7 linked regions of the Homo sapiens genome follow. The protein of the gene in region 1 purifies or fractionates together with the protein of each later gene. This does not show direct contact. Each region holds a gene or a part of one and is shown on either strand. Other genes may lie near its edges. The genes, in order: FKBP10, SPIN1, TTLL12, DNAAF5, SGSH, EFL1 and PPME1.

What was found.
Region 2: the proteins of FKBP10 (region 1) and SPIN1 fractionate together in Homo sapiens (co-fractionation; one large-scale study listed by BioGRID). This does not show direct contact.
Region 3: the proteins of FKBP10 (region 1) and TTLL12 fractionate together in Homo sapiens (co-fractionation; one large-scale study listed by BioGRID). This does not show direct contact.
Region 4: the proteins of FKBP10 (region 1) and DNAAF5 fractionate together in Homo sapiens (co-fractionation; one large-scale study listed by BioGRID). This does not show direct contact.
Region 5: the proteins of FKBP10 (region 1) and SGSH fractionate together in Homo sapiens (co-fractionation; one large-scale study listed by BioGRID). This does not show direct contact.
Region 6: the proteins of FKBP10 (region 1) and EFL1 fractionate together in Homo sapiens (co-fractionation; one large-scale study listed by BioGRID). This does not show direct contact.
Region 7: the proteins of FKBP10 (region 1) and PPME1 fractionate together in Homo sapiens (co-fractionation; one large-scale study listed by BioGRID). This does not show direct contact.

What each region holds. Positions count from the first base shown.
Region 1 is NC_000017.11:41,819,504-41,823,399, reverse strand, and holds the end of FKBP10 (peptidyl-prolyl cis-trans isomerase FKBP10 precursor), read right to left. Parts: intron 3,871-3,896; coding exon 3,725-3,870; intron 3,132-3,724; coding exon 2,939-3,131; intron 2,694-2,938; coding exon of another isoform or gene 2,637-2,693; intron 2,454-2,636; coding exon 2,311-2,453; intron 1,747-2,310; coding exon 1,583-1,746; intron 1,178-1,582; coding exon 992-1,177; 3' UTR 187-991; downstream 1-186. UniProt on the Homo sapiens protein: PPIases accelerate the folding of proteins during protein synthesis.
Region 2 is NC_000009.12:88,461,205-88,465,100, forward strand, and holds part of SPIN1 (spindlin-1), read left to right. Parts: intron 1-1,291; coding exon 1,292-1,545; intron 1,546-3,896. UniProt on the Homo sapiens protein: Chromatin reader that specifically recognizes and binds histone H3 both trimethylated at 'Lys-4' and 'Lys-9' (H3K4me3K9me3) and is involved in piRNA-mediated retrotransposon silencing during spermatogenesis.
Region 3 is NC_000022.11:43,166,122-43,170,530, forward strand, and holds the end of TTLL12 (tubulin--tyrosine ligase-like protein 12), read right to left. Parts: intron 3,448-4,409; coding exon 3,379-3,447; intron 2,792-3,378; coding exon 2,653-2,791; intron 2,039-2,652; coding exon 1,887-2,038; 3' UTR 501-1,886; downstream 1-500. UniProt on the Homo sapiens protein: Negatively regulates post-translational modifications of tubulin, including detyrosination of the C-terminus and polyglutamylation of glutamate residues. Also, indirectly promotes histone H4 trimethylation at 'Lys-20' (H4K20me3).
Region 4 is NC_000007.14:782,199-786,094, forward strand, and holds part of DNAAF5 (dynein axonemal assembly factor 5), read left to right. Parts: intron 1-3,318; coding exon 3,319-3,455; 3' UTR 3,456-3,896. UniProt on the Homo sapiens protein: Cytoplasmic protein involved in the delivery of the dynein machinery to the motile cilium.
Region 5 is NC_000017.11:80,217,463-80,221,909, reverse strand, and holds the start of SGSH (N-sulphoglucosamine sulphohydrolase isoform 1 precursor), read left to right. Parts: upstream 1-1,576; 5' UTR 1,577-1,596; coding exon 1,597-1,684; intron 1,685-4,447. Other genes in the region: SLC26A11 (sodium-independent sulfate anion transporter), read right to left, coding at 116-349. UniProt on the Homo sapiens protein: Catalyzes a step in lysosomal heparan sulfate degradation.
Region 6 is NC_000015.10:82,259,714-82,264,378, reverse strand, and holds the start of EFL1 (elongation factor-like GTPase 1), read left to right. Parts: upstream 1-1,644; 5' UTR 1,645-1,765; intron 1,766-1,850; exon of another isoform or gene 1,851-2,242; intron 2,243-2,581; 5' UTR 2,582-2,600; coding exon 2,601-2,691; intron 2,692-4,665. Other genes in the region: SAXO2 (stabilizer of axonemal microtubules 2), read right to left, coding at 1,447-1,499. UniProt on the Homo sapiens protein: GTPase involved in the biogenesis of the 60S ribosomal subunit and translational activation of ribosomes.
Region 7 is NC_000011.10:74,230,063-74,233,958, forward strand, and holds part of PPME1 (protein phosphatase methylesterase 1), read left to right. Parts: intron 1-182; coding exon 183-337; intron 338-849; coding exon 850-940; intron 941-3,896. UniProt on the Homo sapiens protein: Demethylates proteins that have been reversibly carboxymethylated. Demethylates PPP2CB (in vitro) and PPP2CA. Binding to PPP2CA displaces the manganese ion and inactivates the enzyme.

The sequences.
Region 1 (3,896 bases):
AGGAAACCTCCAGATGGGGAGCCCCTGACCTGGGGACATGCTGTCTGGAGCTAATGAGGCCATGGAAACAGCCTGGTTTAACTTTTTCCCCAATCTCTGGGTCTAAAGGCCTCCCACAATCCCCACTTCATCCCCTAGCCATTCCCCCCTGCCCCTCAACCTGGTCCAAAAGACACCCTAAGGCCATTGGTTTAATCTTTTATTTGGAACAAAGGAAAAAAGGACTGACACCAGTTTAGCCTTTGAGTGTGCAGAGCTCTGCCCTCCCTCCCACCCCTCAGCCCCAAATCCAAGATTTCATAGCCCTAACACCCACCCAAGCAGCTTCCCTCACACATGCCCTTTGTTTTCTTCCTCTCTTCTATGGTTCCTTAGGGAAAGGAGCCTTCTTTAGGGATGAAAAGCTAACTACAGCCCAGTCTGGCCTCCAGCAGCCCAGGGTCAGCTCAGCCTCCACTGGAGGCGAGGGAGGAGGGCAAAGGGCATGGGAGAGGTAGGGCTGCCCTCCAGGAGCCTTCCCCTTCCCTAGGAGCCAGTCAGGATTGGGGAGGAAGGCAGAGGGGTCCTAGGGAGCTGTCACATAGAGGAAAAGGGGCTGGGAGTGGGGATGACAAGAAGTACAAAGAAAGAGAAAGTTTGGGGAGATGGATAACAAGCTCAGCTGTGTCAGTGATGTGGAGGGGAGGTATGGTGGGGGACCAGCCATGGCCCTATCCAACCCCAGGCTCCACAGGCCCCAAATTGGCTTTGCAAATCCAAACATTTTAAGGAAGTGGTTTAGGGATGGAAGAGAAACACGGTAGAGGTCTGTGCTGTGGATTTTCATCTAGGGTGGTGGGAACACCAGAGATGTCTCCTCTGCCATTGTTTTAGTTGGCTCCTGGACCTCATCCCAGCAGAGGGAGGGTGACTGTCAGCAGGTCAGTCCCACCGCCACTGTCCCCCTCGCAGTGGGCCTCTGTGTCTCAGGCCTGGCCAGGCTCCCTGCCCCTCAGAGCTCCTCGTGGACCCGCTCCTCGTCCTCATCTGACTTCAGCTTGAGCTCGTCGACTGTGATCTTGCCGTCCTGGTTGCGGTCCTGGTTCTGGAACATGTCTCCTATGGTTTTCTCAGGGTCCTGCCCAGGCATGAGGCGTCCTTTGCCCTCACTCACTTGAGCCTTGATGAAGGTGGAGAACTGGGGCAGGGGAGAGCCGGGGGAGCGGGCAGTGAGGGTCATGGCCTTGGGAGGGGCAGGGGCCCCGGGTGGAGGCCAGTGAGTGCTTTCTTTTTCTTCTTTTTTCCCAGGCTCCCCCGCACCCTGTAACTCAGGAAGGGCTGGGAAAGGCACTGGTGCTGGGGTCCTGGTGGGGGCTGGGGTGGAGGCGTGGCATGGGGATAGTCTGTGACTGGTCTCAGGTAGGGAACAGCCTGCATGTGTGCCCAGGAAAAAGCAGGGACAAGGAGCCTGAGGCGTGGGACTCAGCGCAGGCAGGAGCACCAGGGCGGGTGGGCAGTCCGGACGGGGGACGTCTTCTTCCTCGATGCTTCCTGGGTGCGGGGATTGCGTGGGCATGGCTATTAGGACTGAACCTTCACCCACCTCCTCCGGAGGGACCTCGCCATCCTTGTTGAGGTCCATGTCTTCAAACAGGTTGGCAGGAGGGTCCTTGTGCCACACAAACAGGTAGCCTGTGGGCAGCCCATCCTCCCGGGACACCAGCTCCACCTCAAACAGCAGCACAGCACTGCCTGGGACTCCCCGGGCTGGAGGGAGGGCAGGAGAGAAGGGAGGGGTCCTAGTCAGGCCGGGGTCTGGGCCTGGCTTCACTGTTTCCCAGCCCACAGGCCAGTTTCCCCTCCTGGGGCTGGGCTGGAGAGTGGGGCATGGGATGTTTAAGGAGCCATCCTGAAGGCATTCCTGACTCCTCCCACCAGTCATCAGACCCACAGTGGGCAGGAGCAAAAGGGACAGATGCCAGTCAGATTACGGTCTCGGGCCGAGCGCAGTGGCTCATGATTATAATCCCAGCACTTTGGGAGGCCAAGGCGGGTGGATCACCTGAGGTCAGGAGTTCAAGACCAGCCTGACCAACATGGCAAAACCCTGTCTCTACTAAAAATACAAAAATTAGCTGGGCACGGTGGCAGGTGCCTGTAATCCCAGCTACTCGGGAGGCTGAGGCAGGAGAATCACTTGAACCTGGGAAGTGGAGGTTGCAGTGAGCTGAGAGCACACCACTGCACTCCAGCCTGGGTGACAGAGTCAGACTCCATCTCAAAAAAAAAAAAAAAAAAAAAAAAAAAAAGATTATGGTCTCAGCCCCTCACCTCCACTCTCCCCGTGGGCCAGGTGCGGGGGCACGATGAGCTGCCGCCTCTCTCCCACACACATGCCCTGCAGGCCCGTGTCCAGGCCTTCGATCACCTTGTTGGCCCCGAGAGTCGCCTCCTGGGGGGCCCCGTAGTCATGCCTGGGGGAGAGCAGATGCCCAGGTCAGCAGCCACCCTGTCCCCTGCCAGCGCACACCCCTCTCCCTCTGAGGTGGGCCCAGAACAAGCCCTCAGTTCCGGAGTTACTCCCACTGGTGACTTGGGCCACGCAGCAGAGTGCAGGGGCCCAGCTGTGCAGACGTGGGGTTCCCTTCTCATCTTGCCTCTGCCCCCTAAAGTGTGGCCTCGAGGGCTCATGGCTCCCTGCGTCAGTTTCCCCTCTGTGAAATAGAAAGAGCAGTTCTCCCCCAACTGTTGGCTTCACCTTCCCTTCCCCTGCGAAGCAGAGAATTTCATCTCCTCGACATGCTCCGAGATGGGGACTTACAGAAAGCAGCAAGAGGTTGAATGCTCCCCTGGCGCTCGAGGACCAAGAGGGAGGAGCAGGCGTCGGGGGTGCACTGAGGAGGACTCCCCATGCCTGTGCCCACCCACCTGCCCAGTCCCGGCCCCCCCCCGGACCCACGAGGTGAACAGCTGGGTGCCGTCCAGCAAAGAACAGTTGTAATGGTATCGAACAAAGTCCCCAAGCTTGGTGGTCTCATTGCAGGTCTCAGATGGCCGGGACAGTGTCCTGATTTCCACCACATCCGCAGGGTTGTGGAAGTCAATGACATGGACGTTGAAGATTAGCACGGCAGAGCCAGGGATCTTGTCTCCTGAGGCCAGAATGGGGGAGTGTGGTCAGCTCAGAGCACTAGGAGAGGCTACTTGAGGTCTCTCCATGGAGGTCCCCAGACCTGATACCCCTTCCCGACCCTGAGGATCCAAAGGAGGATGGGACGGGATGTTTGTCCAGAGTCAATTCTAACAAACTTTCACTGGGGCAGGGGGCAGGGGAAGGCAGCTTTCCAGTAAGAAAGCCCTTTTCCACTCACCGTCTTGCAAACTCCCAGTAACTTACCCTGCGGATCAGCATGGCTTGCCCACTTGACAGGTGAGGACACTGAGGCTCCCAGCACAGCTGGGTCCTGGGGGTATGCTGGTTCTGTTTTTCCATAACCACCCTCCCTCCCCAAACTTGGCTGCCCTTCTCCACTGCGGAAGGGGCGAAGTGGGGCGCTGCCCTGGAGGAAACCGATGGAGTCTGTGTGGCAGGAATCAGATGGGGTGACCAGATGTAAGCTGCATGCATGTTTTTGTGATGAGAGGGGCCGAGCGGTGCCTGGAATCCCACTGTGGGAGGGGGTGGCCTAGACACAATGGGCAGTTCGGAGGAGGAGCTGAGGTGGTGGCTGGGGAACGCCCCTACCAGTTCCATTCTCCCCATAGGCGAGGTGCGGGGGGATGGTAATTCTCCGGCGTTCCCCCATGCAGGCACCCTGCAGCCCCTGGTCCATCCCGGGGATGATGTAACCCTGCCCGATATAGGTATTGTAGGTGTGGTTGCGGGAGTAGCTGCAATACAAGGCGGGAGGGCCAGG
Region 2 (3,896 bases), on another chromosome or scaffold:
AAGGATTGTGTACTCAGAAGGGCTTTGTCTTTCTGGAAGGAAGGTTTGCTGGGTTTTTGCACAGTCCCAAGGGGCTTAGGCAGACCTGGGTTTTCTGGCCTTACAGTCTTGCACTTAACCCTGTGAATCTCCTCCCAGTCTCCTTGGTTAGGTTCAGACCCCCTTGCTTAGTTTTTCACCCCCAGGAGAGAAGCTTCCCTTCTGCGGCGAGTACTCCTTATTGTCTCTTATGGCCTGTTCCCGTCTGACTTAGCTAAATATATGTTACCAGTCTAGAGTAAATTATTTCTATTTAGAAAATATATAATTTTAGTTTTAGCTGTTACAACCTACAATAAATTGTTTCTTTAAAACTTATTTGTGTTATATGTCAGATATTAATCACTTTTATTCATGGTGTACGAAATGAGAGCTTTATACCCATAAAACTGTGGGAAGGGAATTCCTTTCAGGTCTTTTTGTTCTTGGCGTATATCAGCATCTGTTATCTTGGTTTTGACCTTCAGCTTGCATCCAAGAAGCCAGGGTTTTAAGGTGAAATGAAGATTTTTTCCTGATATCAAGAGCCAGGTGTATTATTTATAAACATTCTGTGTGGATTTTTCAATTGCTAATAATAAGCCAGAAAAAAAGTAGTTTGATGTTTCAATAATTTTTAATATTACATTGTTATAAACTTCAGTTTTAAGATTATATGTTTTCTAGACAAGTAATGTTTCTATAGTGCATTGATATAAGCTAGTCTGGACTTCAGTTTAAGAGAAAATTGTCTAGTTTATTTTTATTAGTTAAGCTTGTACAGGCAGAATTATTTGGGCACGGGAATGGGTGAAATTGAATAGTTACACATTTCTTTTTAACTTGAAGTAGATATTATATAAAACTATATACCTGTGTGATTATTGATAACATGTATTTCACGGATCAGTCCTTCTTTAATTAACTTGGAAAATTTTGAGTTGATTGAATTAAAATAAACTCAGAAAGCTGATAACCTGATGCTTAATAGTAGGGCTTAAGTTGCTATTGACTAGTAGTTTTTTCTGCCTATACACAGTTGAGGTGCACAACAAGCTCCTATTACTAACATACCATGTTACACACTCACCACCACTGGTACAGGGGTAGAGGACAACCACTTTGAGTCACCTGAAGCAGGAATGTGGCAAACATGAGTTTGTACATATTTTGGGACCATCTGTAATGAGATCATGCTAGCCAGCGGTTATGTTAGATCTAGGCATGCATACTTTTGAGATAATACCTTATGTGTGTATATGTGTGAATACAGAAAACATCGGAGCAGTGTGGGTCCGAGCAAACCTGTTTCCCAGCCCCGGCGGAACATCGTAGGCTGCAGGATTCAGCATGGGTGGAAAGAGGGGAATGGCCCTGTTACCCAGTGGAAAGGAACCGTTCTGGACCAGGTGCCTGTAAATCCTTCTTTGTATCTTATAAAATACGATGGATTTGACTGTGTTTATGGACTAGAACTTAATAAAGATGAAAGAGTTTCTGCGCTTGAAGTCCTCCCTGATAGAGTTGGTAAGTTCTTTTTATAATTTGTGCATTATATACTTTAAAAATGATATTGAACTGGATGCTTTTTTTATTTTACATTATTAATACTTCACTTTTATTGGAACACAAGCACCCTTCTTGATAAACATTATATTAAATCACCGAAAACCACAAAAATGGATCCTAAGCAGTTCAAGGAACTGTGTGAGGGATATAGAGATGTGTATTTTCCCCCCAAGAAGTTTGCCACGTAATAATTTATAATACGGTTATTTCTAACATTTTTGCTCACTGTTCTCTGGACTCTGATGGGTAAGGTTATCAGTAGCTGAAATATCCTATATGTTAATCTCATCTCATCAGATACAAAAGATAAGAGAATGCTGTGCCTTTAGAATCTTTCTGTGAAAGTGTATCTTTGTGTACAACGTAAATGATAATTGTACTTTGAGCCAAAATTTAAACAACCAAAACGTGGTCTTTATTATACACAGAGCTTGATTGAACAATGTTTGTGGAAATGAATGGCTCTTTTTAAATGTCATACAGTGCCAGTTTTGCCCTGCAAGTGTTCCTTAAGGCATAAGGTCTAAGGTAAATAATAATTACTGATTTTATTAGTAGGGTGGGATACACCCAAACTAATATTACTTTTTTTTGAAGTATTTATTTTGAAATATTTTCTTATTACAGTGATGCTGCTCTTGTTTAAAATATTGGTTTATACTTTTAGAATTGTCTTTATAAGTCTATACCATTAAATAATAAAGTTTCAGCAGATCTAGACTTGGGAGGTAGGAATTTTGGGATCAAATTGTCACAGGAAGAAATTAGTTCAGTCTCCTCGCTTTGTTTTTCTTCAGACTGTGCCATTGTGTCCCTGGGATATAACGAGTTTCCTTAGGAAGTTAATTCTGCCTTAGTAGCAAGTTATTTTGTTTTACTCTTCTCTTTAGATATCAAATGCTAAATCCTTGCTCATCTGTATAAATATGGTTCAGTTTTCAAAGAAATCTTTCTTTAAATTTAAATCTTTATTATTACTCCTAAAAGTAATATTAAGTCTTTGTTATTTTCAACATTCTCATCTATTCTTAAGTGTGACTGATCACCTGCTCTTCCTCTTGATGCACATCCTACATTTCTTCTTGATCATGGCATTAATCCATTTCCCATATAAGAAACTTTAACATATTAAAAATCTTAACAGCAGAATTTTAGTCTCTGCCCCTTCTGAGACGACAGCTAGCTCACTTGAAGGTTCCTGCATATTGCTGCATGACCTGTGGTTGTTGGTCCTTTTGTCATCGAAGGATAGAAACTGTACAAGTATCTCTGGTGATGGGACTAAGGGTTCCATGTTGTTTGTAGTTTGGTATTATCTCTGTTTCCAACAATAGTAATTTTGTAAACATTCAAGCAATATAAAAAGAAACCCAAGAGCTTTTCTGTAAATCAGCAATATATATGCCTAATTCAGCTAATAGTTGTTATTAATTTTAGTATTCGTGGTATTAGGTTGGTGCAAAAGTAATTGCGGTTTTTGACATTGAAATTGAAAGTAATGGCCAAAACAGCAGTTACTTTGGCATCAACCTACTTTAGTCTAAAAAATTACTTGCTCTTCACTTACGTTTTACGTCGGAAGCAATTGCTTCAGGCAGTACATTAGAGTATAATTAAAATTATGTTTTTCTTAAGCTAAAGTTAGAGAAAAAAGTCAGTCAGCCAGAATGCATGTGATGTCACAGAGCAGTGGTTCCCAAAGCAAGGCCTGGGGACCCTTGGGTTCTCTGAAGCCCATTCAGGAGATTTGCAAGGTCAGAAATATTTTCATTTTGTTAAGCTGTAATTCGCGCTTTTCACTCTCTCTTTTTCTCAATTACACAGTGGAGTTTCCCACTATCTATTTGGAAGATTTGCATAACTTAGTGAACACAATATTTTCTTTATGAGCAGTGCATGGTACCACATCATGCATTGGTGAAAGAGCTATTCAAAGTGCAAGACTAACTACTTTTTTTTTAATTGTAAAAAAACATAGCATAAAATTTACTGTCCTAACCATTTTTAAGTGTACAGTTCAGTAGTGTGTTAAGTACATTCGCATTGTTGAAACAGATCTCCAGAACTACTTCATCTTACAAATCTGAAACTCTCTACCTATTAAACAAAACAACCTACCTTTCCTCCCATTCCCAGCCCCTGGCAACCACCATTCTACACTCTGTCTCTATGAATTTGACTATTCTAGATATCTCATAGAAGTGGAATCACACAGTATTTGTTTTGTGAGTAACTTATTTCACTTAGCATAATGTCCTCAAAGTTGGTTCATGTTGTAACGTGTGACAGGATTTCCTTTAAGGCTGAAA
Region 3 (4,409 bases), on another chromosome or scaffold:
ATCTCTTGACTTTGTGTGACCTGTTCTCTGTCCTGCCTCGGCCTCCCAAAATGCTGGGATTATAGGCGTGAGCCACCATGCCTGGCCTGCCTTCTGAGTCTTAACCTCCTTGGTCACCATGTGGCGCTGCTTCCACCCACTGACGGTGTCCATGCACCTGCTCAGCAGTGGCCCGAGGAGCCCTGCAGACGCCCCAGCAGCCAGGGTTTCTCACCGTCCCCACCCCAGGACAAGGAGGCAAGTGTGGGGAGGCTGCTATCTCCAGGGCCACTAGAGCTGTGGGGCCACTCGAGGACCGAGGCTCCCGGCCGGCTTGGAAACAGATCCAGCACATGGAAATCAGACTGTGGGGTGGAGGCCTGCGATATAAAGGCCATCTTATTTCTTCTCCCACTTTTTGTGGGTGACTTCTTGGTATCCGGGGCTTTTCAGTGACAGCCGGGGCGACAGGCCAGGCTGAGCCTGTGGCTCCAGGGTCCAAAGAGAAAGGAGGGCAGAAATAAGAGAAGATGGCCTTTATTGCAGCACGAACTGAGGGGGACTGCATGTCCACAGCTCTCCAGGAGCTGCCAAAGGCGACGGGCCCGCCCTGCCCCTGCAACAGGCCCTCCAGGGGCTAGAGCATGGCTCCCCTCAGGAAGGGTAACGCGTGCTTGTAAACAAGGGCCCAGACAACACAGAGAGGAGAGGCAGCATCATCAGGTGCAGCTTTGCTACAAGAAAGATAGTTCTTAATTTCAAAGAGGAGACACCGCTACACCTAGCCCTGCCCTCCCATGCACTGGAAGGCTCTGGAAGTAGCTCTCGCCTGCCTGGGCAGTTAGGTCCACCCACTGCCCGTGAGCTGGGCCCAGGCACACTGCAGCCACACAAAAACGCTGGCAGCTGACTCCTAATTTCAGAAACACAATTAGAAAAGAACTGGAATTTTACATTTTTCTCCCATACATTAAAAAATAAGAAAAAGCCAACATTTTGACTGTAGACCCTGGTAGGTGGCATCTGACTTTAACCTGAAGTTCTCATTGGAATCCTTTTCTGTCTGGCGCTCCACCGCCCACAATCAGCCCCAGCCCCAGGCGCCCCTTGCCGAAGGATCCTGGCCCATCTCACACAAGGGCGGGACCCCGTGGAGTGCCCGGCGAGCAGGGCAACCACTGGGAAGACAGATACTGATTTCCCTGTTGGGGTCTGTGACCCTCAGCAAACGAAAAGGAAACGGTAACAAGACGGTGGCCTCCTGCCAGGACCTCAGCAGGAGGTTTGCTGGTGAAGGTTCTGGGTGAGCTGGAATGGGTGATAAGGCGGGCTTGCTGGGTGGTGGCCTCAGGCTGTTCCTGGGCCCCTGTCGCATAGAGCCCTGTGGGTGCAGTGTGGGGCCCCACAGCCGTCCCGGGGTCGTCCTGATGCATAAGAGCAGAGACCCCGGAAGAGAAACCCGCCTGCCCCGTGTGATACAGGGCTCCCAAACGCTTCCCGGTGGAACCCTGCTCCCGAGGACACCTTGTCTCGCTCCACGGAACCCTTCCCCCAGCACCCCCTGGAAACACAGCAGCCAGGAACAAATTCTCCATGCCAGGAACAAAGCCCTTGGCTAAACTGGAGACTCATCAGTGCACAGATGGTGGTGAGGGGTGAGGGCAGGGCGTGGGGTGGTGCTCAGCCCTGGGGACACCATCACTGTCCTGCTCTGACCCACAGGTGAGAGGAGGATGCTGTGCTCCCGGAGTGTGGCGCCGGGAGGATGGCTCGGCAGGACAGAGGCCTGGGGCTGAGGCTATGCCCAGGGCCGGTGTGGGGAGGGACATGGGGGCCTTTGCAGAAGCAGCTCAGAGAACTGAGGTTGGAATCCTGCCCCAAGCACAGGTTTTGGGGACAGCGAGTGCCTAGACAAGGCAGGTAACGTGGCAGCCACCGGGCTGGTCCAGAAACAAGGTGCTGAAGACGTCGTTGAAGAAGGTGGGGTGGTACCTGCAGGCTCGCTCACAGTCGGGGTTGAAGTTCACCTCCAGGATCTGCGGCTGCATCACCCGCCTTCCTGATGGCAAAGAGCGCAGCAGAGTGTGAAGGCTCGTTGGCCTCCACTCTGCAGGGACAGTGGCCTGGGGATCCAGCAAAGGCTGGGAGGCCATGAACCTGGGCCCTGATTCCCAGGGGATGAGCAGGACAAGGCCGGGCCTAGAACTTGGGTCTCTTGACTTTGCTGGGGAGGCCTGGCCTGACATCTGCTTCTCTAGGAGAGGCCAGGGCTGCCTCCAGCCCTAGGGATGACAGCCTGGCCCTTTAAGCTTGGATGTTCAGTTTAGTAAAAAAAAAAAAAAGTAGATATGCAGCAGCAGTGTACTGTGTGGGGGTCTGGCACAGGGAAGGCCAGCCAGGGTGGTGTGGGTTGGGGTCAGGGTGCCTTTCACACGGGTCTCCTGTCCTGTGAGCTCTCCCCCGACTCAGAGGCCCAACCCGCAGCCTTTCCCCTCCAGACTCTGCACCGCAGGCACTTCCTGTGGGCCAAGCCAGGGCTTTCCCCAACCCAGATTCCTGGCTGATTCAAGCCAGAGGACAGCCTGGGGCAGCTGCCTGCCTTCTCCAGGCTGTGGCTGGCTGGCGGAGGGGGCGCCTGCTGGTTTGGATCAGGAGATGGGGAGCCCCTCTTACCATCTGGGCCGTTGTCCCACTTCAGCATGAGGTCGACGGCATACATGGCCCGGGATGAGGGGTAGTCGCAGAGGCCCAGGGGTGGTGGCTTGGCACAGGCCACCTGGAACAGCTCCGTGAAGGCCCGGAAGATCTCAGCCTGGGGACCGGGGAGCCTGAGTTACGAGGCCTGCTCAGAACAGCCTCTCAAGAGGGGGTCTGCTGCCCCTGCCCAAGTCCCGGGCCCCACGTGGCCCAAGTCACCCCCTCCCACATCTTCACGTCTCTAGACCTCACCATGGCCACCTCCGCCCAGCACCTGCCCTCTTACTCCTGACGCCCACCTTCTGCAAATCTGCCCATCTCCTGCCGCAGACCCCGTTGCTCCCCACTGCCCCAAGGAGCTCAACACAGCACCCAGAATGCCGCTGCTGGACATGGAGGCCCAGCCAACGTCTCCATATGACTGGGAATCTAGGGTCAGGCAGTGCCGCCACCCTCTGGCTGTCCCAGGGGTGCCCCACATGCCCCTCCAGCTCCCTCCCTCTCAGGAGCACCCACAAATGCCCAGGGTGGAAGGGAGGGGAGCCCACGCTGTCTTGCCAGCCTCTGGGGAGAATGACCAACTGCAGGGGACAAAGGTCCCTCCCAGCCCATGCCAGCAGAGAGGGAAGGGAGCAGCTCCTGCAGGCCCCCAGCCCGGGACCCGCCCCACCGGCCTGCGATGGTGTGCAGGACAGGAATTACCTGGACGTCCGTCCAGGGAAATTCTGGGTATTGCTTCTCAAACTCGGGGATGAACTCTTCACAGTGCACCTGCAACAGACACAGGGCCCATCACGCTCTGTACAGGCCTCCGCTGGGCCGGGAGCAGGCAGCCTGCTACTGCCTGGACCAGGAGCTTCTGACACTGGGTGGGGGTTCCAGGAGCAGGCAGCCAACCCCGAACCCTCAGGGTCCAAACAGGAGGCAGGAGATGGAGTCTGGGCTCCAGGTCTTACTGTGTGACTCTGGACCAACGGATTAACTTCTCTGAGCCTGTTTCCTCCTCTGTGAAATGGGAAAATGTGCTCTGCCCAGTAAACTGACTTTGCCACGCAGCTGTGAGGCTCACGCGAGACAATGAACATCGAGGGCTCCAGAAACTGCAGGGCCTGGGCTGGCACCATCCTCACACTCAGCTCAGTACAGTGCGAAGGAGGCAGAGCTCAAGACTCCGCCGCGGGACCTGCCTGTGCCCTGGTTCAGCACCAGCTCAAGAGTGCTTGAGGGATGCAAGATCTTTCTGGCCTCAAGACTTTACCCAAAACACACCCGAGGAAGGTGGCAGTCGGCTCAGGTTTCTCCCAGAAAAGAACAAGCCAGGAAAGGCCCCTATGGAAGCCCGCCATCCATGCCATGCTGGACGTACCTCCCCAGGCACAGAGCTCCAGGAGAGGACTCCCGGGATGACCCCCACAGTACAGAAGGGAGGGGCTCAGAACCTGAGGGCGACTTCCAACAATGTCCTGGGGCCCTGCTGGGGGGTCTGGGTCCTAGGGAGTAGGCTTCAACACAGGCAAGGATAAGACAGACAGAAGCAACAGGACCACTCGGCCCCTGTGGGGAGTGTGTGCTGGTATAGTCACCAGTGCATGGCAGGGCCCTTTCTCCAAGTCCTCCTAGAGGACTCCTCGGACATGGGCATGGCCAGGTGCCTCCACGCATGTTCACGCGCCATGATTTATCATTAGTGAAGACCTCAGATGACCAATCGCCGCCACAGTTAGCAACAAGCC
Region 4 (3,896 bases), on another chromosome or scaffold:
GGATCTTCCTGGCGTGGCCGCCTCCCGTCGCGCGGCGTCAGAAACTCGGATCTTCGCGGCGTGGCCACCTCCCGACACGCGGCATCAGAAACTCGGATCTTCCTGGCGTGGCCGCCTCCCGTCACGCGGCGTCAGAAACTCGGCTCTTCGCGGCGTGGCCGCCTCCCGTCACGCGGCGTCAGAAACTCGCATCTTCCCGGCGTGGCCGCCTCCCCTCACGCGGCGTCAGAAACTCGCATCTTCCTGGTGTGGCCGCCTCCCGTCACGCGGCGTCAGAAACTCGGATCTTCCCGGCGTGGCCGCGTCCCGTCACGCGGCGTCAGAAACTCGCATCTTCCTGGTGTGGCCGCCTCCCGTCACGCGGCGTCAGAAACTCGGATCTTCCCGGCGTGGCCGCGTCCCGTTACGCAGCGTCAGAAACTCGATATTCCTGGCGTGGCCGCCTCCCGTCACGCAGCGTCAGAAACTCGATCTTCCTGGCGTGGCCGCCTCCCGTCACGCAGCGTCAGAAACTCGATCTTCCTGGCGTGGCCGCCTCCCGTCACGCAGCGTCAGAAACTCGATCTTCCTGGCGTGGCCGCCTCCCGTCACGCAGCGTCAGAAACTCGGTCTTCCTGCCATGGCCACCTCCCATCCGGCGGCATCAGAAACTCGGACCTTCCTGGCGTGGCCGCGTCCCCTCACACAACGTCAGAAACTCGATCTTCCTGGCGTGGCCACCTCCCCTCCGGCGGCATCAGAAACTCGGATCGTCCTGGGGTGGCTGCTCTTGTTACGCAACGTCAGAAACTCTCCTGCGTGGGCACCAGGCTCAGAAGAGTCCGGCTTGTGGTGGCAGGGCCAAGCTTTGGCTCATTGTGATTTTTTGTGTGAGAGCTTGACTTGTATCCTCGGCCACAAACCCTGTCGGTTGTTCTGGGAGTGAGGGACTTGGGCCGTTCACTTTCACGCCGTGCTCTGCCAGATCCCGCGTCCGCACAGCCAGGGTGGGTGCACTGCTCGTCCGTCCGCCATTCTTCCTGGGAAAAGCAGCTCTGCTGCACGACCCTGGTCCTCCGTGTGAAGCGGTGCACCTGGTGCCCACTCGCGGGTGTAAGCCGTGTGCGTGAGGGTGAGTGTGGCAGGTGAAGCCGTGTGCTCGAGGGTGAGTGTGGCAGGGGGCGTGGGCCTCAGCTGCTCCCGCATCTGCGCAGGTGTGAGCACAGTGACGGGCAGGCCGGGCATGCTCTGCGTGCGACCACATGCCTGGCTTTGACTCACAGACCCTCTGAAGGGTCCTGGGGACCCCGAGGGCCTTGGAGCCCATGTCGGGAGCCCCTGCCTTGAGTCGTGGAATCAGGTTGTCAGCCAGTGAGGGAGCCCCAGAGCCCATTGATCCACGGCGGGGCCCGTGGTCTCTCCAGGTCACGGAAAGAAGCTGCGAATTGGAGACCAATTGGAAATTGTTTAAAAGGAGGACAGCAGCTCACGTGCAGGCCTCGCTGGGACAGCCCATCCTGCCAGATCCACGCAACGCCCCCAGCTCCCCACACTCCCTGGCAAATCCCAGCCCTGCCTGCGCCCTCCCAGCTCTCCTGTCCTGCACTACACACCATCAACCCGAGTTCTGAGCTTCTCCTACTCTCAGCCTCAGCCTCACTCGTCCTCAGGACCTTGCTCTAGGCCGAGGAGACCAGTGCCCCTGTGCACCAGCTCAGCCTGCAGCCCCGGCCCTCTCGCCTCCCCAGGACTGCACAGGGCATCTCCCTTCCCCACTGCACGGTACAGGCCATTCTTTCTCCTGTCTTTAAAAAAACAAAACACAGATGCCCTGTACGCCGCCCCCACCTCCCCCACCTCCCCCACCGCACATCCGCCTGGCAGCAGGCTCCCTGGAAGCAGCCCGCCTTACCCCTCCTCGAGGCCCTGGGCCCATGGCAGGCATCTGCAGCCGTCCACCTGCCTGCACCTCTGAGCAGCGCCAGGCACAGCTGGCGGCCACGCACCCTCCTCTGGCTGCGGGACGCCCGTGCTCAGTCTCTTGGTCTTTCCCTCGCCCATGTGGGCCCCTCACTGCTCCTCTGCTGTGTCTGCACCGCTCCCTCAGAGCTCTTCTCCTGGCCTCAGCTCCACACACAAGTGCAGCTGCCTGGTGCCGAACCCTGGGCCGCTACCCCCCTCCCTGACTGCCTGCCGGGTTCCGCCACCCTCAGTGGCTCAGTGGCCATCTGTCCTCAAGACTGAAGGCGGAGACCTTGAGGTCCTCCTGGACCCCCTCTTAACTCCCAGCAGAATCTGATAGACTCCCCAGCCACTGCAGCAACCTCCCCATCCTCTTCCTGCCTCAGCTAGACACGCCCAACCCTTTCTGGCCCCCACCCCTGCAGCTCCCACTGCCCCCATCACACACACCACCACGAGCCCCTGACACGTTTGCCTTCCTGATTTTCATCATCGGCCACTGCTTCCCGATGAACCCTCCGTAAGCATGGGTTCATTTCCGGCTGTGTCGGTGATGCCTGGCCCGTGGGAGGTTTGCAGTCACTGCGGCAGGTGAATTGGCATCCGCAAATTGGATAAGAAAGTCGCCTGTTTTTCTGAGCCTATTTGCTCCTGTGAAACCTGTTTCTAAGCCCAAAAATGCCACCTGAAGACTCTGCAGGACATCATTTCATGGTCTGCCCACAACTGCCAGGAGGCGATTTTCAGTTCTTTGAATGCACGTTGTGACTGCCGTGCACCCACCCAGCAGCATCAGGTTCCTCATATTCACATAGTGACCATGCAGCATCAGGTCACTTGTCCACGTTGTGACTCAGGTCATTCGTATCCACATTCTGACTGCCGTCCACCCGTCCAGAGTGTCAGCTTACTTATATCCACGTTATGACTACTGTGCACCCATCCGCTGCATCAGGTCGCTCGTGTCCACACTGGGACTGCCGTGCACGTGGCCAGCAGCATCAGGTCACTTGTATCCACATTATGATCGCTGGACACCCATCCAGCAGGATCAGGTCATTCGTATCCACATTGTGACTACTGGGTCCCCATCCAGCAGCGTCAGGTCATTCGTCCCCAGATTGTGAGTCGGGTCACTCGTATCCACATTGTGACTACTGTGTCCCCATCCAGCAGCGTCAGGTCATTCGTCCCCACATTGTGAGTCGGATCACTCGTATCCGCATTGTGACTACTGTATGTCCACCCAGCAGCGTCAGGTTATTTGCAGATGCTTTTACAGATGCTTGAACTTCACTACAAAGCCAATTTGCACGAGAGGTAAGATTGGTTTCATGTTTGTTTCTGGCATGTTCAAGGTGTTTTTCTGTTTTACAGAGGTCCTCAAAGAGGGCAGCGGGCTGTTCCCAGATCTCCTGGTGAGGGAGACGGAGGCCGTCATCCACAAGCACCGCTCGGCCACCTACTGCGAGCAGCTCCTGCAGCATGTGCAGGCCGTGCCAGCCACACAGTGACCACGCTGGTTTCAGCCACGGCACACCCTTGTCCCCACCTGAGCCAGAGTTTGTGGCCTTTAAATCTCATAAACAAGGCACCTCTGTGCCAGCAGTGAGACTGTGACAGCAAGAATGTACTCCTCAGGACACCTGCCCACTCTTTCCCTGGAATAACAGCCTCTGAGTGGATTCTGCATGTTATGTGATTTGTTCTGTTCATCGAGAGGGCTCCCAAACATCTGCAGCTGATTTGAAATTAAAAGTAAGTCGCAGCCGCTCCTCCCGCAGCCACTTCAGCAGCATCTTAGATTTTAAGCCTCACGTGCGCAGCTGGTTCATGAACTATTGGCTGCATCCTGCTTAGGTGCCCACCAAGAAGGTTTTTACCTACTTAACAAAAAAGAAAGAAGCCAAAGTGATTAGAAAGAAATGAAATCTCTTTTTGGGTTCTGTCTACTG
Region 5 (4,447 bases), about 38 Mb from region 1:
GGTTCCTTGGGGCCCAGGGGCTGGAAACCTGGAATCGCTGATGGTGTCTGGGATTGATACTGTGTATTCTGCACTGTTTCTGAGATATGGCTGGCAGCAGGGTCAGACGCCTCACCTGGGGCGGGAGTCCAGCCACTTCAGCATAGGCCAGCGCCTGGGGAATGGCAGTGAGGCCAACTGAGAGGCCGGCGACGAAATCCATCTTCAGCCACTGCAGGGAGTAGCTGGGCAGCCACGCCAGGATGGGCAGCCTCCTCTGCAGGGCCGCAGGGGAGCAGCAGCAGGCGCTCGGGGCCATCCCGGGGCCAGAGGACCTGGCCTGACCCAGCGCCGTCACCGAAGAAGGCATCTCTACGGTGGGGCTGGGGGGTGCAGGTGACACAGACCAGCAGTCAGAGCGTGGCCTTTGAAGAACCCGGCAACACTGGTCAGGGTCGGCGGGTGTCAGGAGAGGTCACTATGGGTCTCCCCTCCCCAGGGGGGCGAACGGCTCTAAGAGGAAGCCAACAATGTGTGCAAGATGGGGACTGGGCCAAGACTGGAAGGCCCACCCCGTCCCTCATCACCCTCTCTCCCTGAATCCCCCCCGTGCAAATCCTGGGTGCCTTCTGTCCCTCCATCCTCAACTCTCCCAGATAAGAAACTGATAAGCGATTCCTCATTGAGAAGTCTGAAGACTAATTAGGCTCAACACTTCTGGCCCCTGGAGAACCGACTTCCTTTGCCTTTTTTTCCGTCTCCCCAGGGAATTTAACGGGGAGCAGCGCAGAGAGAAGCTGGGCCCGCGGGCGCACCGTAGGCTGGCGGGGGGTGCGGGTGGCAGCCAGGAGATCCAGCGGGGCTCCGAGGTTTTCCAACTGCGCACCAAGGCGGGCTCCACCCGCTACGGTGGACTGCGGCGCTCGAGGGAGAGTGGGGGGGTCCTCCGCTCCTGAGGCCACGCCTCGCTCAGCCCCCACCTGTGGCTTTCACAGCCCTGGAGTTCTAGTTGCTTCTGGGAGGACATCAGAGGCGCCCGGTTAATTCAGGTGCGCAGCATCTTCCAGGGCCCCGGCGCCCGCGCGCAGAGCCGCCACCCTCACCCCCAGCCCCCCACGCCCCCGGCCGCTCCGCTCCGGGCAAAATCCACTCCCCGGCCCCCGGCCCCGCCCACAAGGCCGCTGGCTCCGGATCCTGGGGTCTCCGGAGGAGACCCTGCGCCACCTGACCGTCCGCGGTCCCTTGGCCCCGAGCAAGGCCGAGGGCCGCGGGGACCCGGGTAGGGACGCGGCGGGGGAGTGGTCCCCACGGGAGGCCCCCGCACTTCAGGACTCCGCGCTGGCCCCCGCGTCGGCTGCCCCCGGCGACCCCGGCCACTGTCCGCTCCCCCTGCCCCTGGTCCCCGCTCGCCGCCCTCGCGGGCCACGGACTCACCCACTCGGCGATGCAGCTTGGGGTCTCCTGGCGTCGCCGCAGCTGGGTCCGCAGGAATCGCCGGGGACAGGCCGGGGCGGGGTCTGGCGCGCACGTGACCGGGGTCGGGGCAGGGGGCGGGGCCGAGCGGGAGACCAGAGAGCCGGAGCCGGATCCCGATCCCGAGTCCGAGCCGCCGCCGCCATGAGCTGCCCCGTGCCCGCCTGCTGCGCGCTGCTGCTAGTCCTGGGGCTCTGCCGGGCGCGTCCCCGGAACGCACTGCTGCTCCTCGGTGAGTGCCGGCGCCGCCCCCCCACGCCCACCTGCGGTGGCCCGGGGAAGTGGCCACTGGCCTCCTCCCCACCCGTGGTCAATGCTGACCCTAGTGTGCCCTGCCCTTGTATCCCCCGCTGCCATTCCCTCTCGTCCTCCTCTCTGTGCCGCCCCCAGACTCTTCACGGGTGTCTCCCCAGAGAGGGCAGCAAAGGCTGGAGGAGTGAGCCCCAGCATCCAGCACCCCTACACTTACCTCGTGCCGCCTGTCCCACCCTCCTCTGACCCTGCCCAGCCAGGGCTCAGGGGTCCACGGATCTCAAATCCCTCTTGGGAGGGGATCCCAGAGGAGGGGCTGGTGCTCCGGTCCCCAGAGACTGCAGACAGGGTGCCCTCCTGGCTCTCATTTCCGACCCCAGAGCCTGTGTCTCAGCTGTCTTTTCCCTTATCCCAAGGGCACAGCCCTCCACCACCCACCCACCACCGTCTCCCCCAACCCCAGTCCCTCTCAGAAACCCCAGGTTCCTCCAGAGCAAGCACCGTGCTGCTCACAAGACTTCCGGTTTAGGTAATCAAGGCTCTGGCTCATGACAAGTGACAAGGCCAAACCCAAGGCCTGCGATTCTTTCCCCTTCTGAGGTCTGGCGCCCTGCCAGTTGCCCTCTTTCTGATTAATTTTGTGGTCTCTGGGCGGGGGTTCGGCTCACTGTAACATAAACAGCTCTCCTGCCAACTCCTCGCCTCCCAGAAACACAGCAGAGAATCTGCATGGACCCTCACCTGCGGATCAGAATTCCTACAGGAGGCTGTCAGAGTCCAGGCTATGCGGCCCCTGGGCTAGGGCCTTTCTTAGCACGGACTGCCATGGATCGGCTTAAACAGAAATGTATTTCTCACAGTTCTGTGGGCTGAAAATCCAAGGTCAGGGTGCCAGCTTGGTTGGGTTCCAGTGAGGGTCCACTTTCGGCTTACAGGTGGTCACCCTCTCACTGTTTCCTCACATGACAAGCGGATGGGGGTGGTCTCACTTCCTTTTCCTTTCTTTTTCCTTTCTTTCCTTTTTTTTTTTTTTTTTTTTTTTTTGTGAGACAGGGTCTCACTCTGTCACCCAGGCTGGAGCACAGTAGCACAATCACAGCTCACTGCAGCCTCAATCTCCCAGGCTCAAGCGATCCTCCTGCCTCAGCCTCCCAAGTAGCTGGGACCTCAAGTGCACATCACCATGCCTGGCTAATTTTTGTATTTTTTGTAGAGACAAGGTCTCACTGTGTTGCCCAGACTGGTCTCGAACTCCTGGGCTCAAGCAATCTTCCTGCCTTGGCCTCCCGGGTGCTGGGCTTACGGGCATGAAACACTGCACCCGGCCCTCTCTTTCTTTTCCTTTAAGTCCACAGTCCTGTCAGATCAGGATCTCATCCTTATGATTCATTTACCCTTAATTAAGGACCCTGTCTCCAGATACAGTGATGTTGACGTTAGGGCTTCAGCATATGAATTCTGGGAGGACACAGTTCAGACCATAGCAGGCCCACAGCCAAGTGCCGAGACACTCTGGGTTTGGAGAAGGGCAGCTTTCTTCCTGGCCTGCGGGTACGGAGCACAGCCCATCCCGCTCTCCCTCCAGGTTTACGTGGCTGCCATGTGCTCACACCTGTGGGTACTGTGGGGTGGAGGATGGAAGCCCAACTGGAAGGTGCCCAGCCTCCTCTGTCCATCCATGGACCACATTGCCTCTGAGGGAGCTGGGGAAAGTGTTGGTCTGGGGGTTCCCACCAGCCTCTCCTGTGGTGCCCCCAGTGTCCTCTACTCCAGAGCAGGGGGAAGAAGCTTGGTGTGGTTGTAGGAGTTCAGCGGCCTGTCCCTGTTTCCTGCTGCCCAGTGTGTGGCCCTGGGCACTGCACCTCACCTTTCTGGGCCTCAGCTGCTTTGTGTAGGATGAAAGGGTTGAAATAGACAACCTGCAAGGTCACTAGGCCTTTGAGATGGCATCAGTGAGAAGCAGCGGTGGGACGCACACACATAGAGCTTTAGACGCGCCCTGGGCGAGGCTCTCCTGCCCTCTGCCCCATGCGGTTTCCGCTGAGCCCAGAATTGCCCAGCAGTTCTGTGGCCATGCGCTCAGCCGCTGTCTGCCTAAATGCCTAGCCGGCTAACACGCCCACCCAGGTAGCATGCCTGCTGGGGTATCATCAAGCTTGTTGGGTCATCATGCCTGCATGAGTATCTTGCCCACTTGGGTACCATGCCTGCCTGCTAACATGCCTATGCAGGTACCAGGCTTGCCTGGGTACCATGCCCATCTGCTTATACCCACCAGCTATCAGTCCAGCCTGTGTACCATGCCCACCTGCCAACATACCCACCGGGTATCATGCCTGCTTAGGGTATCATCAAGCTTATTGTGGTATGATGCCTGCTTATCATGCCCACTTGGATACCATGCCTGCCTGCTAACATACCAACCACGCATCATCCCTGCTGGATACCAGTCTACCTGCTAACATACCCACTGGTATCAGGCCTGCCTGGGTACCATGCCTACCTGCTTATACCCACCATCTATCAGTCCAGCCTCCATACCATGCTCACCTGCCAACATACCCACCATCTATCAATCAGTCCAGCCTCCATACCATGCTCACCTGCCAACATACCCACTGGGTATCAGGCCTGCCTGGGCACCCTGCCTGCTTGCTGATATACCCACCAGGTATTGTGCCTACTAGGTACCATGCCTTCTTGCTAACATACCCAGTGGGTATGGGGTCTTCTGGATACATGC
Region 6 (4,665 bases), on another chromosome or scaffold:
AAAAAAAAAATCAATGCAGGCCAGGCGCAGTGGCTCACGCCTGTAATCCCAGCACTTTGGGAAGCCGAGGCAGGCAGATCATGAGGTCAGGAGATGGAGGCCAACATGGTGAAACCCCGTCTCTACTAAAAATACAAAAATTAGCTGGGTGTGGTCGCACGAGCCTGTAATCCCAGCTACTCAGAGAGGCTGAGGCAGGAGAATTGCTTGAACCCGGGAGGCGGAGATTGCAGTGAGCCGAGATTGCGCCACTGCACTCCAGCCTGGCAAGAGAGCCAGACTCTGTCTCAAAAAAAAAAAAAAAAAAAAATCAATGCATATGTAAAACAAGTCTTAAAGAACATTTGTTATCTGTGGAAGATAGAATTATGAAGGCGTTTTACAATATTATAGATATTTTTGCTTAGATTTTTATGATACTTCTTGTGTATTTATTGCATTGTCAAAAAATAAAAATAAACCCTTAAAAAGACAAAACTAACAACCACAGCCCAAAACAAACAAACAAGAAGTAAAATCACGCCATTCCAATGGTGGCCCTCAACATAATGAAGACTGAATTTCCTTACAGTTGAATGAGAAAGGAACTTGCGTTGAATATAAATTAGGAGAAAAGTAAAAATTTTCTCCTGCACACCAGTCTGAGGATTCATACACCCAAAGTTAATTTGTTGATATTTTAATCTATATATAATTATGAACTGTGTTTATTATGAGACTATTAAAAAAACTGCTTTCCATCAACATGTAGGTGTTTTCTTTGAATGGGATTACAAATACACCAGGGATTGACAACGTTCATATTTACTTAGCAAATAATGATCTAATCCCTGGGTCAATAGTGAAGCTGAGGAAGGAGAGGACTGTGTTTACAGGTGATGGAAGGTTGTTAGGCAGGACTCACAGTTGGATTCTAGATTTCAGGGTAGGGACTACTTACTGACTTTTCAGTCAGGCGGATCCCAAAGAACTGCTGCCTGGACGGGAATGGGAATATGGTCTGGCTGGGAGGACAGAAAGCTACAGATGAAAGAAAATGTGATATGGGTTGCAGACTCAGGGCCTTGAGCACTGTTCTTTCTCATCTTCGTGGTGGGGGATTATGGGGTGGAAATGCACTCTCCCAGTCGGATCACATCCCACTACTCACCAGCGTTATATCCCGTCGCGGCTTCACATATATTACTTACCTGGCCCGGGTGGCATTTTACTTTGCATCCTTGATTGGGAGTCTCAGGGGCTACGAACAAACGTTTTACCCCCGGGTAGCAGGCGGGTGAGGAGCGAGTATTCGCGGAGCGGGATAAGTGGGGATGTCGCTGCGCCCTCGTCCCTTCATCTCCGGGGGACGGCCACTCTCAGGGTTCCCGAGGAGCCGGCTCCGTGCACCTAGGCCCTAGGTCGGCTCCCAAGCCCGGGCCCGCCGCTACACCAGCCGTTTCTTACCCGCAGCTACAAATCTGACACAGACACCAGCTCCTCATACTCTTGGCTCCCATGCTTTCCTCCACCGCGCCTCAGCACTTGCAGCTTCTCCACTCCCACAGCGCCCGCCGTAGTCAAGGCAACAGAGGGATGCCCGGTGACAGACTCGGCGCCGGCTTCCGGCGGCGTCAGAGACGTGCGGGTGAAAGGTCGAGCGACAGCCGGCCCCGCCCCCTGGCGCGCGGGCGTGTCGGACCCGCAGAGCTCTCGGACTTTCGGAAGCTCTCGGTGTGGGTGCGACCCGAGAGAAGGAGCGGGGCTGGTGGGGCTGCTGCAGCCGGTGAGTGTGGGCTGGCGCTGGGGGCTGGAACCTCCTAGGCCAGCCTTTGGGCGGTGCCGGAGGAACCCGCTCGCTGCGGCTCTGAGGCGGGAACAGGGGCTGGGGCCGAGCGCGGGCTGGGAGCTTCGGTCCCCGGAGTGCCGCTTCCCGTCTGGGGCCGGGGCGGTCGCCTGTCTGTGTGGACCCAGGATCCTCAAAGAGAACGAATCTGGGACCCTGCAGAAATGAAGGGCATGTAGTGTAGAGGTTTTTCCTTTTTATTTAGAAAGGAATGAAAGACCGGCAGTGCACCTGCTTGGATAATAAGCACGTGACCCAAAACTTTGTTCGGGCTCCATGGGCAGGAATAAAGCTGGGTATTTGACCTCGCGCGAGGACGAGCGAGAATGTCAGAATGAGGGACTTGGGGGAAGACTGAAGAGAGAAAGGGAGCATCTTCTTCAGCATTTTCTCTCCCTCCTGGATGCAACCCTTCCTGTACGTGGTCATTGGCCTGGAGATGTTTACTGGAGTACTCCTCCACCGGCAGGGTTACTGGTGTCACTGTGCACCCAGTCCCCTCGAGCTGCGTGATTCATCGCAGCCTTTGGATCCGGAAGGATGAGCAAACTCCTTAAGTGTAATCGTGGTAGGATACTGACTTTAGTGCTCGAACTGGACTTAGGCCTTGGTGGTCTATCTCATCAATAAACATTCACTGGGTTCTTGGTTTAAGGGGTTTGAGAAGCTTGCCACCTCCCAGCGTTTATTATTATTTTTTTCTTTTGCCCCGACCTTTAGCCTCTGGGCCATTTGTAATACATATTTAATTTTTAGTCACAGGAAATAAGTAATCATGGTGCTCAACAGTTTGGATAAGATGATTCAACTCCAGAAAAACACTGCCAACATCAGGAATATTTGTGTTTTGGCTCATGTTGACCATGGTAAGAATACTTTTTAAATGGCTTATTTTGATAAATAAGGGAGATGTGTCTCTGTATGTCTCAGTGGAGTGAAGCTGTGGACAGCTGAGAGTGATGTTTGCTAAGAAGCAAGTCTTCTTTCTTTAAAAGTTTTGTGTGATGTTAGGGAAGCCTGCTTTGCTATAAAGCATTTGAAATGAACACGGTTACCTAGTGAGTAGCATTCTTCTATATATTATGTCATGTTGTTTTTTAAAGCAGAACTTGAATTTTTTGTTTTTGAAATGGCTTTACATATAAAATGTCTGTAGTCTTGACATAATGTCCTTAGAGTCTGTGGTATGTGATCCTATTTAATTCATCAGATATTTATCAAACGTCTGTTAAGTTCAAGATATTTTGCTTAGTATGTCTGAAGGTGGAGATTTATGAGTAGGGCACTAGCCCAGGGGAGGTTTTAACGGGGAGCAGAGCAAAATGAGACAAACAAGAGAAAAAAGTAGACTCTAAGGTTGGGAGAACTAGAGGATTAGGAAGTGAGGGGTTAGGAAAAGACCTCACAACATAATTAGTATTAGAGATGACACTTGAAGGGGGCTCAAGATGACAAATGGAGATAATCATTACAGGTGGGAATGTGTCATCAAGGGGAGAGGGAAATATATGTGGTCAAAGCCCAGTATATGGGAAAGGCAGAGATAGCTAACCCATGGTATGTTCTTCTGACAGATACTGCTGTAACTCCATAGCGCTCCTTCATGCTAAGCCTCCTCTTGATTTCAAACCTCTTGGTAGTTTAGGTAACCACAGCAAAGTGATTGGGATGGGCATATGAAATAAAACATATTTACCATCCTGAAGATGAAGGACCAGTTGGCGAGGTGAAGAAGCAGGCTGAGTCATATCTCATAGAGCTGCTCATGCCAGCTAGGAACTGGGATAAGAGTTGAGTGCTCCAGCTCTGGAGTTAGACAACCTAAGTTCAGATCTCCATTTTCAAGTTACATACCTTGCCTTTTTGAGCTTCAATATACAGCATCTGTAAAACAGGATGAAAACTATACCTGCTTTATAGGCTATAGGATTAAATGTGATAATAATGAGAGGGAAGGTAAACGCTTCACCATGAAAACGATCATTAATGTCTACTATTAGGCAGTAGGGAGCCTTTGGGGGAAAACATGGAGCAGGAATGATGTAATCAAATAAAACATGAGAAAGATTAGATTGGTAGACATGCTTAGGATGGATCCAAAGTCAGAGATTAGGTGGCTGTTGTCATTGATAGAAGAGCTGAAGTAATGTGAGTATGGAAACTGACAGAAAGACAGATAGTGGATCACTTACAAGTGAAGCCAGCTGTGAATGAGTTTTAGTACAAATCCAGTGAGTAACCCCTGCCTCCATGAGTTTTTATAATTTTACTGCTCACATTTTGAGAATGTGAAGGCTGATAAAAGGGTTTTTTTTTTCTTTATGAATTTATTCAAGTGGAAAGTTAGTGGGGTGTAACAAATTACTTTAAATGTATTGTTTAAAATTATGTTAAGCTGCTACTATCCTAAAAAACCTGGGATTCATCCATTCAACAAGTATTTTCTGAAGGTCTTCTATATGACAAGCGTTGTTCTGGTCCTAGGGATACTGCTGTGAATAAAGCAAAGTTCCTGCTTGCTTGATAATTATTTTCTAGGGAGGTATATACTTGGTGTACTTAGAATAAATTCAGCTTTACTGGGTAGCAGGAAAGTGATGCTCTAGGATTATATGCTAATACATATTTACATTGCAGACAGATAGCAGTGTTAAATATCTTCAGTTCTCCTACTCATTGGTCTCTGGTTTGAACAATACAGAGATTCCATAGCTTTGCTGAAGTTCCTAAAGTGCAATAAAGACTTGTCTTGAAGGAAAAAAACCCTCCTTTGCTTACTCCAACCCAGTTGTAGTAATTATGCATACCCCTGACATTCTTTACACAGAATCACCTGTTTA
Region 7 (3,896 bases), on another chromosome or scaffold:
GCTACACATATTGATGCTGGGGACATGTTAGAAGGTTTACATAGGTATGTTTGTAAGATGGCCCAATAGACTTTTACAGTTTCCCAGCACTGTTACACACCAAAGAAAGGAACTGGGAAAGAAAACCATTTTTACAGTGTTGTCAGAAAGCATTCTTAGATCTTTTTCTCTTCTCTTTGCAGAGACGTTGGCAATGTGGTTGAAGCCATGTATGGGGACCTTCCTCCTCCAATTATGCTGATTGGACATAGCATGGGTGGTGCTATTGCAGTCCACACAGCATCATCCAACCTGGTACCAAGCCTCTTGGGTCTGTGCATGATTGATGTTGTAGAAGGTGAGTTTTCTTAGCACTGACCAAATCAGGATTTCACTTATAAGAGACATCCTTGGTAGATTATTACCTTGTCTTAGTTTATTGTTGATTTCATTCATCTTGAAATATGTCCCTCTGTCTTTATATCTTTTTTAAGTTTATACAAGATAACCATTTTTCCATGTCATCAAAAACTCTTCATTAACATCTTTTTATGGCTGCATAATATTTCAATCCTATGTATGTCCCATAATTGTATTTAATCATATAAAAAGAAGCTGCCATGTCTTTTCTGACCCAGCTTCAGAAGTCACACTGCTGCTTGTGAATACAAGTCATCCTCTTCAGTGTGAGGGCATGACATAAAGAAGTGAATACCCCAGAGGCAAAAATTATTGAGGGCCATCTTTATTTCTCTGCGAGCATCACTAAATTCTGCTGTCATCAAGAGCAGATATATAGTAGTTGACTCAGTAAGTGTAAATGCTCAGAATAAGTTAAATATGTGGTTACAGTTTTTGTTTAACATCCAGGTACAGCTATGGATGCACTTAATAGCATGCAGAATTTCTTACGGGGTCGTCCTAAAACCTTCAAGTCTCTGGAGAATGCTATTGAATGGAGGTAACCAACAAATCTTTGTCGCCTTTATTTAATTAATTTGTTTGTTTGTTTGCTTGCTTATTTATTTATTTAGGAGACAAGGCCTCACTCTGTCACCCAGGCTGGAGTGCAGTGGCATGATCCTAGCTCACTGCAACCTTGAACTCCTAGGTTCAAGCAATCCTCCCACCTCAGCCTCCCAAGTTGCTAAGACTACAGGTACACACCACCAAGCCTGGCTAATTTTTAAATTTTTTGTAGAAACGAGGTCTTGCTATGTTGCCCAGGCTGGCTTCAAGTAATCCTCCTGCTTTAGCCTGGCCTCAAGTAATCAAGTAATCAAATTCCTGGCCTCAAGTAATCCTCCCACTTTAGCCTCCCAAAGTGTTGGGGTTGTGGCGTGAGCCACAGTGCCCAGCCACTGTTGCCTTTATTCTAAATGTTAGATTGTAGCTTTTCTTCTTTTTTAGGTCAAGCACCAAGTTCAAGGAATAGAATTTCAGTTGCCACGCCTTATTGTAATAGCATATGAGGAAACATTATATAAACAGCAGAATTTTTTGAACATTTAAAAATATTTTAGATTTGGCTCAGTTGTCTGAAACCCATTGTTTTCCCAATACACTATAGTACCTCCTGGAATCTTAGTAATTATTGATCATCTGCTGTCTAGCTGTTTCTGCCTCTGAGGTAAGAGGTTAGACTAGGTGGTTTCTAAGGCATCATCCACCTCTGATGCTTCATGGTTTTAGATTTACTTTCTGTGTTTCAGATAAAATGGTGGAGAAATGGAAGATGGCTATAGGTTCCATTCCCTCAAATTTATTTGGATTTTGGGTAAATAAACTCAATGGGTAAATAGTTTTTATAAAAATCAGTGACAGAATTCCATTTAAGCAAAGGAATGAATTTATTCATTAATTCAGTTAATCATTTGATAAAGTATTTATTAAACACTTATTTTGTGCTAATGAGTGAAGATTCAGAGATGAATAAAACACTGTCCCTTCCCACAAGGAGATCAGTCTTTGGATAAATGTCTTCATCATCCTATCTTCCTTCCTATTCTTCTAACTCCATCTCCAGTCTCTTCTTCAGAACATTTTCTCTTAAGTTCTCCAAACCACCCAGATGACGCTTTCAGCAAAATTACAAGAGACCTTTAAGTCTCTATTATATTGCACTGTATACCCTTAAGTTTTCCAATACTCCCTTGAGGGATATGGCTCATATTGTTAATTTTCATTAATGTCTGTCTTAATGCCCTTCCTGCATCATAAGGGAAGAAGCTATTCTGTATTTCTTTTCTACTTTCATATAGCATATGGCATACTGCCCTAGCAGGCAGAATATATCTGTTAACTGAATCAGATATCAAGTGGAAATTTAGGACTTGGTAAATATATCCTAGGCGTTTTCCTAGGACAAATGGTCTTATGCAAGAATATGGCTTGTCAGAATGATGTTTGTGTTGGTGAAGTTTCTACCACTTCCTGTTCACTACTGTGATGCAGGATTCCTGTTCTCACAGAAATATCAAAGATCTATCTTGGGCAGATAGCATCAAGAATGTAGCTGCTGCCAGCTTGGCTTGTATCTCAGGTGCCCTGCCTGCTTCCGCAGTAACAACAAGTGAGAAAGTTATTCTAGACTTGGCTCAGTTGTCTAAAGCCCATCCAACTTTTATCCAAACTTTTTTTTTTTTTTTTTTTGAGACAGGGTGTCACTCTGTTGCCCAGGCTGTGGAGTCCAGTGGCATGATTACAGCTCTCACCGCAGCCTTGACCTTCTGGGCTCAAGCGATCCTCCTGCCTCAGCCACCCAAGTAGCTGGGACTACAGCTGTGCACCACGATGCCCAGCTAATTTTTGTTATTTGATTTTTTTTTTTTTTTTTTTTTTGTAGAGACAGGGTTTTATCATGTTGGCTCGACTGGTCTTGAACTCCTGAGCTCAAGCAGTCTGCCTGCCCGCCTCGGCCTCTCAGAGTCATGGGATAAATGGGTATGAGCCACTACGCCTGGCCCTTTTTCCGAACTCTAAAAATTTATTCAGTAAATTTTTTTTTCTAGTGCCTAAGATGTGTCAGTACCTGATCTAAGAACTGGGGGATGAATCAGGCTCAGTTCCTATCATCAAAAAACTGGGGATGCAAACAAGGAAACACATAAACATAACACAATGAAGGAAGCCAGGGGATATACCTAATGCAGCCTGGGTATCATGGTAGGCCTTCTCTTAAAGTAGTCTTGTTTCTTTTGCCAGATACAGGATAGAATAAGGGTTCTGTTTGTTAAATGTTAAGATGTTCTGGGTTTCATGAGAGTCATTGATCTTTCTGAACCTGAAAATTATTATACTATGAGGTATTTGGTAATTTTGTTTTTTATTCTGCTGGATATCTGAATCAAGTTTATGACTGATGGCCATTTTGGCTATTCTAGATTTTTTTTTATGTTGAAATATAAGGCCAATGATTTACTGCTTTTGCTCTCATAGGTTTCCTAATGAGAGGCAGCAGGGGTATAGTCATTAAGAACCTGGGCTTTAGGCCAGGTGTGGTGGTTCACACCTGTAATCCCAGTGCTTTGGGAGGCTGAGATAGGAATATTACTTGAGGCCAGGAGTTTGAGACCAGCCTGGGCAACATAGCGAGACCCTGTCTCTACAAAAAATATATATATTTTTTTAATTAGCTGGGTGTGGTAGCATGTGCCTATAGTCCCAGCTACTCAGGAGGCTGAGGTGGGAGGATCATTTGAGCCCAGAAGTTCAAGGTTATAGTGAGCTATGATCATGCCACTGCACTTCAGCCTGAACAACAGAGTGAGACCTTGTCTCGAAACAAAACAAAAAAGTTAGGGGAAACCTGGGCTTTGAGGTCAGACAGATACAAATTTGCATCTTGGTTACACCACTCTGGCTGTTCTGAGGAAAATCAAATAGAAGAAGTGGGGAATGAGGTGTGAAGTTGGTTA